Homo sapiens: one gene and its partner. The protein of the gene in region 1 purifies or fractionates together with the protein of each later gene. This does not show direct contact. Each region holds a gene or a part of one and is shown on either strand. Other genes may lie near its edges.

Region 1 (7,185 bases):
TGCAATCACTTCTCAGGTCTCTTTCGGCCAAAACTTAGAGGACCACTTATGACTGCAGGGAATCTGGGAAATGCAGGTTCATTAATTTTTTTAATTAATTAATTTATTTATTTATTTTAAGATGGAGTCTTGCTCTGTCACCCAGGCTGGAGTACAATGGCGTGATCTCAGCTCACGCCACCTCCCAGGTTCAAGCGATTCTCCTGCCTCAGCCTCCTGAGTAGCTGGGATTACAGGTGCACGCCACCATGCCTGGCTAATTTGTATTTTTAGGAGAGATGGGGTATCACCATGTTGGCCAGGCTGGTCTTGAACTCCTGACCTCGTGATCCGACCACCTCGGCCTCCCAAAGTGCTGGGATTATAGGCATGAACCACCACGCCTGGCCTGGGAACTGCAGTTTCCAGTTGGGTGGCCATATGCCTCTAAAATTTAGAGGATTCTCTTATTAAAAGGAAGAAGGGAAGAATGTAATCTAGGGGGAAATTAGCAGGCTGTGCTACAGTCCACACAGCAGCACAGGCCCATGACAGTTATCAAATCCTGCTGGGCATGAGCTGTGAAGACCTCCACCCTGGCAGTAGAGTAAGTTCTTTGGTTAGCCCACCTGGCTGCCCTTGCTACTGTTTTCTGGGAATAACTCCCTTGACCTTAGTTCTCTGTATTATCTGAGTTTACTCTCAGATAGGTTATTCGTTTACTATAGAGCATGGTCACACCTTTTTGTCCTTCTTCCCTTTTGCTTTTTTTTCTGCTTGGAACTTGGATATAATGGCAGGAGCTGCATCAGCCATCTAGGGGCCATGAGGGAGTCTTAGAAACCTCAGCCCTGATTTCCTTGGTCTTACGACATTAATAACTGGCTACTTCTGACATTCTTCTATGAGAAAATAAACTCTTATGGTTTAAACCACTGACATTGGGTCTTTGTTACCCAGAGCCAAACACAATTCTCAACTGATATGGAAGGCCTCCCTAAGAAGATGACATTTAAGCTGAGGCTTGAAGGGTTAGCAGGTGGCAGATACCAGAATAGCAGAGGAAAACCAAAAGCCCTTTCCACTCCACTACACTGCTGACTGTCTATCATCCTCTAGGTAGGGAGATAAGAGACTGGAGAAGTCAGGAGAGGAGATTTCAAGGTGGGATTGATTGGCCAGGAATGATAGTGATGCTGTGAGGAAAGGAGGGCTTGGTGATGTGCTCTCATCTCCATGTGTACGTTTCCTTCATGGCACTTGTCACACAGAAGTTGTGATGACATGATGAACACCCGTCTGTCTGTTCTGCTAGACTGGAGTCTCCATGAGGGCAGGGACAATCCTTTCGACTGTTTATCACTGGCATAATGCCTGGCACATGGCAACCATGGAACAAGTTATTGGATAGGCCGTAGTAGAAAGAGCTAGGGTAAGAGGAGGGAGAGAAAAGACACAGAAGCAGAAGAGTGGAAAACCTGGGATTGTGCAGGCTCCTTGTTAAGGGGACACCATCCCATTAGAGCACCACAACACTCCTCAGAGGCAGACAAGGGGGATTGAGGTCAAATGGTTCCTTCAGGCACCCACATGGCATGGGCTGTCCAGCTCACAGCCTGTCTCTCCTGGCTACCCAACAGGCATGATGAGCTCTGAGTTGGCTATCAGTGGTACCCCCCTCCCTAGCCATAACAATTGATCCAAGACATAGGTACATGACTCAGGCTGGACAATTAGAGTCCTTTCCAAGAATTTTTAAACAAGAGCTAAGAAAAGTAGCTACTTCCTCTGCAGCTATGAGAGCATGAGCCTGGGTTTCCTATCATCTGGTCAAGCTTCCCGGAGGTGGCCAGCCTGGGGTAATGAGCCTGGCACCCAGAGAAAAGCAGGGAAAGAGCCACAGAAACAAAGCACTACGGGTCGTCAAATCCCTGGTTCCCGTATGCCTCAGGTCAGCTCCACCCTGCCCTTCCTAGTTTATGAGCCAATAAATTCCTTTTGTGTTTAAGAGAGTTAGTGTTGAGCTTCTCTCTTGAAATCTATCAACTACCTTTCTCTCCAAAATGCACCCTGAATCTGACCACTTCTCATCATCTCCACTGCCACCAGCCTGGTCCAAACTACTAATATGTTTTGCCTGGATGAATATAACAGCCTCCCAATGGTCTCCCTGTTCCTCTCTTGCTCTCCTACAATCCATTTTCCACCCAGCAGGCCAAGTGATCTTAGACAAATGTCAATTAGATTATGTCACTTTCCTGCCTAAACCCTCCAGTGGCTTCTCATCACTTTTAGGGTAAAATACAAACTCCTTACCCTGTTTTACAAGGCCCACCATGAGGAGTGGATACTCCTGTCTGTCCTCTGACTTTATTCCATGCCACTTCCCCCTCATCACTATGATTCAGCTATATTGGCCACCTTTTTGTTCCAGACACATTAAGCTCATTATTTCTTCAGTGTCTTTGTACCTGCTTGCTTTCTTTTCTTTTCTTTTTTTTTCTGAGATGAAGTCTTGCTCTGTTGCCCAGGCTGGAGTGCAGTGGTGCGATCTCAGCTCACTGCAACCTCCGCCTCCCGGGTTCAAGCAGTTCTCCTGTCTCAGCCTCCTGAGTAGCTGGGACTACAGGCGCCTGCCACCACACCTGGCTAATTTTTTTATTTTTAGTAGAGACGGAGTTTCACCTTGTTGGTCAGGCTGGTCTCGAACTCCTGACCTCAGGTGATACACCTGCCTTGGCCTCCCAAAGTGCTGGGATTACAGGCATGAGCCACCACGCCTGGCCTTTGTACCTGCTTTTTCAGGTCTTTGCATGGTTAACCCCTCATCATTCAGTTTTTAGTGTAGTAATATAGTAATCATGTCTCCCCCACCTCATCCCTTTCTATCTTATTATGTTGTTTAAGATATTCACAGAAATGATCACTGCTATAATTATCTTTTAATTATGCTTTTGCTTACTTTTTTGTTGGCTATCTCCCCTGGAGTTTGAGCTCCAATGGAGCAGGGCCCTCACCTGTCTTATTTACCATGTATCTACACAGTAGATGCTCAAGTAACATTTATTCAATGAATAAATGAATGCATTACAAAATGAGGAGGAGCTGGAGTTCCAGGCAGCCCCTAGATTCCCTGTTGGGTCTTCTTTCCTCTGCCCCATGCACACACAGTACACACTGTTGACTAATGTTTAACTCATAGAGGAGTTTGGGCTTGACATGTGACCTCACTCAGCCTCTGTTTCATTTGTGAAGTAAGAAATAAGAGTGGGCGGCTGGGCGTGGTGGCTCATGCCTGTAATCCCAGCACTTTGGGAGTCTGAGGTGGGCAGATCACGAGGTCAGGAGATCAAGACTATCCTGGCTAACACGGTGAAACACCATCTCTACTAAAAATAGAAAAAATTAGCCGGGCATGATGGCACATACTTGTAGTCCCAGCTACTCAGGAGGCTGAGGCAGGAGAATTGCTTGAACCGGGGAGGTGGAGGTTGCAGTGAGCCAAGATTGTGCCACTGCTCTCCAGCCTGGGTGACACAGCGAGACTCCATCTCAAAAAAAAAAAAAAAAAAAAAAAAGGAGTGGGCTTATTTCACATAAGCCCACTCCTTGCTAAACCAACAATGATTGCCTAAGATGCACGGAGCCAGTTGGTGGAAAAGTCCATAGACTATCAGAGTTGAATGGTGCTGGTCAGGTGGGAGGAGCACCTCATTCCTGCTTCCCCATCAAGTTACTTGCCTTGGCCTGCTTCCTACTCTCTGGGTCACTGGTGCTCACACAGCCTTTCCCAACCCCCACCTCCAAAGGTCATATTTTACAGCTCCTTGTGAGGAATTCACATCATGCCATGACCTTCACTATGAGAAAGCACAGGCTGTAAAAGGCCAGCCTGGCTCCCTGCTCCGTGGTTAAATATTGATGATATTGGGCAATAGAGACCTGGAGTGGGCACACTACATATCCCCCTGCAGTGATGGAACCCACAGACCGCAGGTCCTCTGCAGTCCATTCTCCTGCCTGTCCAGAGGATCCGGATGTTTTCTCTTTACTTGAGGCCAACACATAACAATGAAAGCACTGGGCTACTGGTGCTTTCGGATTGTGAAAGTCAGGTGGAGCCTGTTTGCACTCTGAGTGCACTCATTCAAGAGGTCAGTCACCCTGGAGTGATACAGAAGGCTCCAGGCCTGGGCGTGTGCTAAGGCCAGAGCTACCAGATGGGTCCAGCTGCCGCAGGCTCTCCAGGCACTGTCCCCTAAGTGACAGCTGTTACTGCCTGGGAGAGCTCAAGTGCAAAGACTATCCTGTTCTCCCATAAAGAGGAGGAAAAGGAAGATACAGAAATCGGTGCTGCTCCCAACAGCAGATCAAGGCAGTCGTCAGGAACTCAGGATCCGGGGTGAGTGTCCTCATCTTGCCTTGGGGATGGGTGGCCCAGGTCTTTGGCAGAAGTCACAGTCCAATGGCACGATGGTTAAGCCCTGTTTAAAATGCAGAGATCTCCCAGAGGGGCTTAAGGAGACAAGACAACTAAATGCAGTATGACATCCTAAATGGGATCCTGGAACAAGAAAAGAACATTAAAGGCAAAACTAACAAAATGCAAATAAGGCATAAAGTTTAATTTAATCATGCAAATGACAATATGATGCTCACTTTAGAAGCAAACTGGATACGTGCTTTGATAGAAATATGTCTTTGGCCGGGCGCAGTGGCTCACGCCTGTAATTCCAGCACTTTTGGAGGCCGAGGCAGGCCGATCACCTGAGGTCAGGAGTTCGAGACCACCCCGGCTAACGTGGTGAAACCCCATCTCTACTAAAAATACAAAATTGGCCGGGTGCGGTGGCTCATGCCTGTAATCCCAGCACTTTGGGAGGCCGAGGCAGATGGATCACCTCAGGTCAGGAGTTCCGAGACCAGCCTGGCCAATGTGGTGAAATGCTGTCTCTACTAATAATACAAAAATTAGCTGGATGTGGTGGCGGGCACCTATAATCCCAGCTACTCAGGAAGCTGAGGCAGGAGGATCACTTGAACTCGGGAGGCGGAGGTTGCAGTGAGCTGAGATGGTGCCACTACACTCCAGCCTGGGCAACAAGAGTGAAACTCTGTCTCTAAATAAATAAATACAAAATTAGCTGGGCATGGTGGTGGATGCCTATAATCACAGCTACTTGGGAGGCTGAGGCAGGAGAATCACTTGAACCTGGGAGGTGGAGGTTGCAGTGAGCTGAGATCATGCCATTGCACTCCAGCCTGGGCAAAAAGAGTGAAACTCTGTCTCAAAAAAAAGAAAGAAATATGTCGCTTGTTTCTGTGGCATCTAACATAGCTGAGGAGGGCTGACTCTCGGTTCTGGATTTGTATCCAATTTGTCATTTTGGTTTTTTGTTGGTTGGTATGTGTTTACTGTAACAATATTAAACATATTTTAAACATATTTTGGCCAGGCGCGGTGGCTCATGCCTGTAATCCCAGCATTTTGGGAGGACAAGGTGGGCAGGTCGCTTGAACTCAGAAGTTCAAGGCTGGCCTGGGCAAGATGATGAAACCCCATCGCTACAAAAAATACAAAAATTAGCCGGGCGTGGTGGCACATGCCTGTTGTACCAGCTGCTCAGGAGGCTGAGGTGAGAGGATCGCCTGTGCCCGGGAGATGGAGGTTGCAGTGAGCCAAGATGGTGCCATTGCACTCCAGCCTGGGTGACAGAGCCAGACTCTGTCTCAAAAAACAAAAAACAAAAAAACACCACTCCACTGTGGACAATAGCTTACCTGCGTCTTTGTACACTGATCTGATTAGTTCCATTAATTAAATATCAAAAATTGGAATTGTTGTCTCAAAAGGTATAAGTACAATAATACCTACATTTAAAAATGCATACAAAGGCTGGGTGCAGTGGCTCACACCTGTAATCCCAGCACTTTGGGAGGCTGAGGTAGGCGGATCACCAACCTGGCAAACATGGTGAAATCCCATCTCTACTAAAAATACAAAAATTAGCCAGGTGTGGTGGCACATGCCTGTAGTCCCAGCTACTCAGGAGGCTGAGGCAAGAGAATTTCTTGAACCTGGGAGGCGGTGGTTGCAGTGAGCCGAGATCACACCATTGCACTCCAGCCTGGGCAGCAAAAACAAAACTCCATCTCAAAAAAAAAAAAACATACATACAAATAGACAAAATATACATAGAAATATATACACACATTAAAAATGGAATTACATGTATTGTTCTCATGAAAGCAGTGTATACGCATAAGAAACCACACAATACAGGAGTGGTCAACATGAATATCCCATGTGTCTAAATCTCATCCCACACCCTAGAAGAAGACTGTGTTTGGTTTCTCAACTTCAATACTTTTCTTTGTGAGTTCAGGGGTTTGCATATGGCACAGGGGCCTGTGGCTGATGTTACTAATCAATCCAGGCACTCTTACATCTGAGACTGGATGGAATGTCACAATCCTTCTTGGACAGTGCTCTGGACAGTCAGTTGGAGCTAGAACACAAGATCACATCTGTTGGCCATTCTTGTAACTTTGTCTTTCCATGATTTTAGATGGGTAGGTAGGCAGATAGATAGATAGACAGATAGATCGATAGATGATAGATAGATAGATAGATAGATAGATAGATAGATAGATAGAATCTCCCTCAAATGAGTAAGTAGGCAGTGTGCATGTGAGTCCTTGAAAGTCTAAGAAAGGGCCAGGCACGGTGGCTCAGGCCTGTATTCCTAGCATTTTGGGAGGCCGAGGCGAGTGGATTACCTGATGTCACGAGTTCAAGACCAGCCTGGGAAACATGAGGAAACCCCATCATTACTAAAAATACAAAAATTAGCCTGGCGTGGTGGCATGCCCTGTAGTCCCACTACTTGGGAGGCAGAGGCACAAACGAGAACCGCTTGGACCCAGGAGGCATAGGTTGCAGTGAGCTGAGATCACGTCACTGCACTCCAGCCTGGGCGACAGAGCAAGACTCCGTCTCAAAAGAAAAAAAAAGAAAAAAAAAAAAGTCTAAGAAAGGTCTTTTTTTCTCCCTGACTTCCATCTCCACCTTGGCATATGAATGATCATTCACATATGAAAAGCTTAAGTCAGTATTGTATTTGTGTCAAAATATTTTCCCTTGCAATTTGTAGATATGCCTTTTTAGTTTTCTCAGAGCATTTAGTGCTAGAGGAAACTCTGATG
Region 2 (2,898 bases), on another chromosome or scaffold:
ATGTGATTATGCTTTACCGGTATAAGAGATTCTGTTGTGATTATTTGAATAGTTTTATATTAATAAAAGAAGACAAAATTTTTTAAATGTTAGAAAAAGCAGATCTGTCATTGCAAAGTAACAAAAATTTTAAGCTTTTAAAAATGTAGATTTTTCATATTTTTAAAATTTGAATCTATTTGAGCTTTAGTTCAGCAGAATTAAATTTTTACTTGACATTATCATTAAAATTGCTAGGTATGGAGAACAATTCCTATTTTATTTTGAACACTGAGAAGAGTAAACTTTTCCTAAAACACTTTATATTATAAATGAAAATAAATTGCTAGTTTATATTTTAGATATAAACATCATATTTTTTATTAATACCTACATCAAATGGAAAATATCTGAAATTTTTTTTCCATAGCAGGTATTTTCTACTAGAAGTAGTTTTACTACTTTTCATTTAGAACAGAGTATGAGTCTTAATCTGAAGTCTTTTTCATGCCCTTGTTTTAAAAAAACTACTTTTTTTGGCCTCAAAAAAATCAAGGGTGTAATTTTTAATAAATTGTTAATCCTATGTTTTGTAATTTTCATTTTAGGAGCTTGACTTATTTTTTTCTCTCTCATAAAAACACATTTGTTTTAATTGTAGGAGAAATTTTCTCAGCATTTTGCATGTTCTTTCTAATCTTTGTTGGTCTGAATATATTGGTAGTAATTACTGTAATTATTCAACAAAAAGCATATCCGTTCAAAAATTTTTCCACTATGTCTTTTTTCTAGTGGCTACTGTTTTAGTTTTCTAGTTGAATATCTCTGACAAGCTTTCGTATGGTTTTGTTATATTTTCATCTACATGTAATGTGTTATTAATTTTATTAAATGAAAACTAATCACCTTCATGTGGAAATGCTCTGAGAATTGTCCTTAGGCATTTGGTAGTAACCAGCTAACCAAGAAGAAACAGAGAAACCAGAACTTCATATGGCAGTCCATTTAGATGAAGAATGATGATATAAAATCTGGTTCCTTCTTAGCAAAATAAAAAACAAACAAGAAAAGATACTAAATGATGTTAATTTTCTTACTTTATGATTTAGAAGTCCAGTTATAATATTAAAACTCTGTGACATAGTTTCTTTTACCAAAACCATGAACCTACTCCCCGTATCAGGTATTTTCGATGGTTTAGAAGTACTCAAGTCACATCACATTCAAGTTAGAAGTTTTTTTTTTGTTGTTGTTATTTTAAATTTTTAACAAATATAAACACCAGCAGATACTATTACTTGCTTAAAAAATTGGGAGGGGGCACTTTTCATAGTCTTGGAATGCTAAGAAGTTTTATTTTTAATATTGTGACAGAAAGCTTTAAGTATTTAAGAGCTCTGTATTATATTTGATACTCTTACAGTTAAAAACTTTTCAAAATTAATACATTGTTAATTATTGACCAGTTTTGAAGTTTGGGTTTAACTGTAGTTGAAATGGAAGGACTCTTGTTTTACACTTGTATTAAAGATAAATTTATTAAAATAAGTTATTTAGCACCAATGGAGTATTACATTATTTTTATGTTTTATATTTTTCTTGAGGTAGAGTTTCAGAACTCATCTAGTATTTTGACTAATATAGTATATATTCAGTGATTACTGTTCAAATGGGACATTGGTAGAAACTTTATTAATCTATGCAAGTATCCTATAACCCTCAATTCAAGGCTCTTTTGTAAAAAATGTACTGGAGAACATGGCTTAGGCCTGAAACCCATCCTGAATCTATTCAGGTCACCTGTAGAGTCTTGACTTGGATTTGCAAAGCAGATTGTTAGACTCCTTACCCAATGTGAAGTGTGAATAAGGCCTATAGGCCTGCCTCACACAGCTAATCAGAGGTGGCACTGAGAAAGTCAAGTCCTAATAGGTCTCCTTAAAAAAAAAAAGGAGACAAAAAGCTGGCAAGAACATGAGCCAGCTTCCCTCAGTGCTGTCACTCTCAAGTAAAACATGGCCAAATGAATATCAAACTGGTTTATCAGATTAGTCACTCTTCCTTACTGAGGGAGTATCAAGTAAGGGCTGGAGAGAGACCAGATATGTGGAGTTGTTGGCTTTCAGTGGAAATGGTAGCCTCCCTGTGGGTAGAGACCAAAAGGTAGAGAGATGACAGAAGGGAGACTCTGATTAGTGTATTTTTTTTTTGTCTATTCCTTAAAGCCCAGACACCTTTCCATTAAAATCTACTTCAAATCACAAGTTGATTACAATTGAGTGGAACATCCCATGTTGTAAATGGAATAATGTGTTCAGAATGCTCTTTCTTTCCCCCAATAAAGCCCTTTATAGTGTTTGCCCCAGGTGTAATTCACATCCTTGGTAATATTCATTCAGTTGTTTATTCAACAAATATTGAGTACCAGTTATGGGTCAATCATTGTCCTAGGCTCTGAAGATAACAGAAAACAAGAAAAATGCTTTCTCCCTTGGAGTTTATATTCCAGTGGCGGAGAGACAGATAATAAACAAATATACTCTTGTGGTGGCAATAAAAGTTACGAGTAAATATTAAGTAGGACATAAGGATAGAAAGTGAGGGGAGTGGGATTGTTTGTTACAATAGGACTGCCAGGCCTTTCTGTTAAGATTGCATTTTAGCAGAGACCTGAAGGACATGAGGGAGCACACCATGTAGACTTGTGGGTAAATGTAAGGTTCATACTGATCCTTCATATACTTGATTTAAAGCATATATTCCCCCCAAATAATTGAATTTATTTTTATTTTTATTTTTTTTTGTTATTTTTTTTATTATACTTTAAGTTTTAGGGTACATGTGCACATTGCGCAGGTTAGTTACATATGTATACATGTGCCATGCTGGTGCGCTGCACCAACTCGTCATCTAGCATTA

Evidence for each region.
Region 2: the proteins of SLC51B (region 1) and TMEM38B purify together in Homo sapiens (affinity purification with mass spectrometry; 2 studies listed by BioGRID and IntAct, with this or other methods). This does not show direct contact.

The regions. Positions count from the first base shown.
Region 1 is NC_000015.10:65,041,202-65,048,386, forward strand, and holds the start of SLC51B (organic solute transporter subunit beta), read left to right. Parts: upstream 1-4,185; 5' UTR 4,186-4,381; exon of another isoform or gene 4,382-4,512; coding exon of another isoform or gene 4,513-4,543; intron 4,544-7,185.
Region 2 is NC_000009.12:105,774,275-105,777,172, forward strand, and holds the end of TMEM38B (trimeric intracellular cation channel type B), read left to right. Parts: 3' UTR 1-2,355; downstream 2,356-2,898. UniProt on the Homo sapiens protein: Intracellular monovalent cation channel required for maintenance of rapid intracellular calcium release. Acts as a potassium counter-ion channel that functions in synchronization with calcium release from intracellular stores.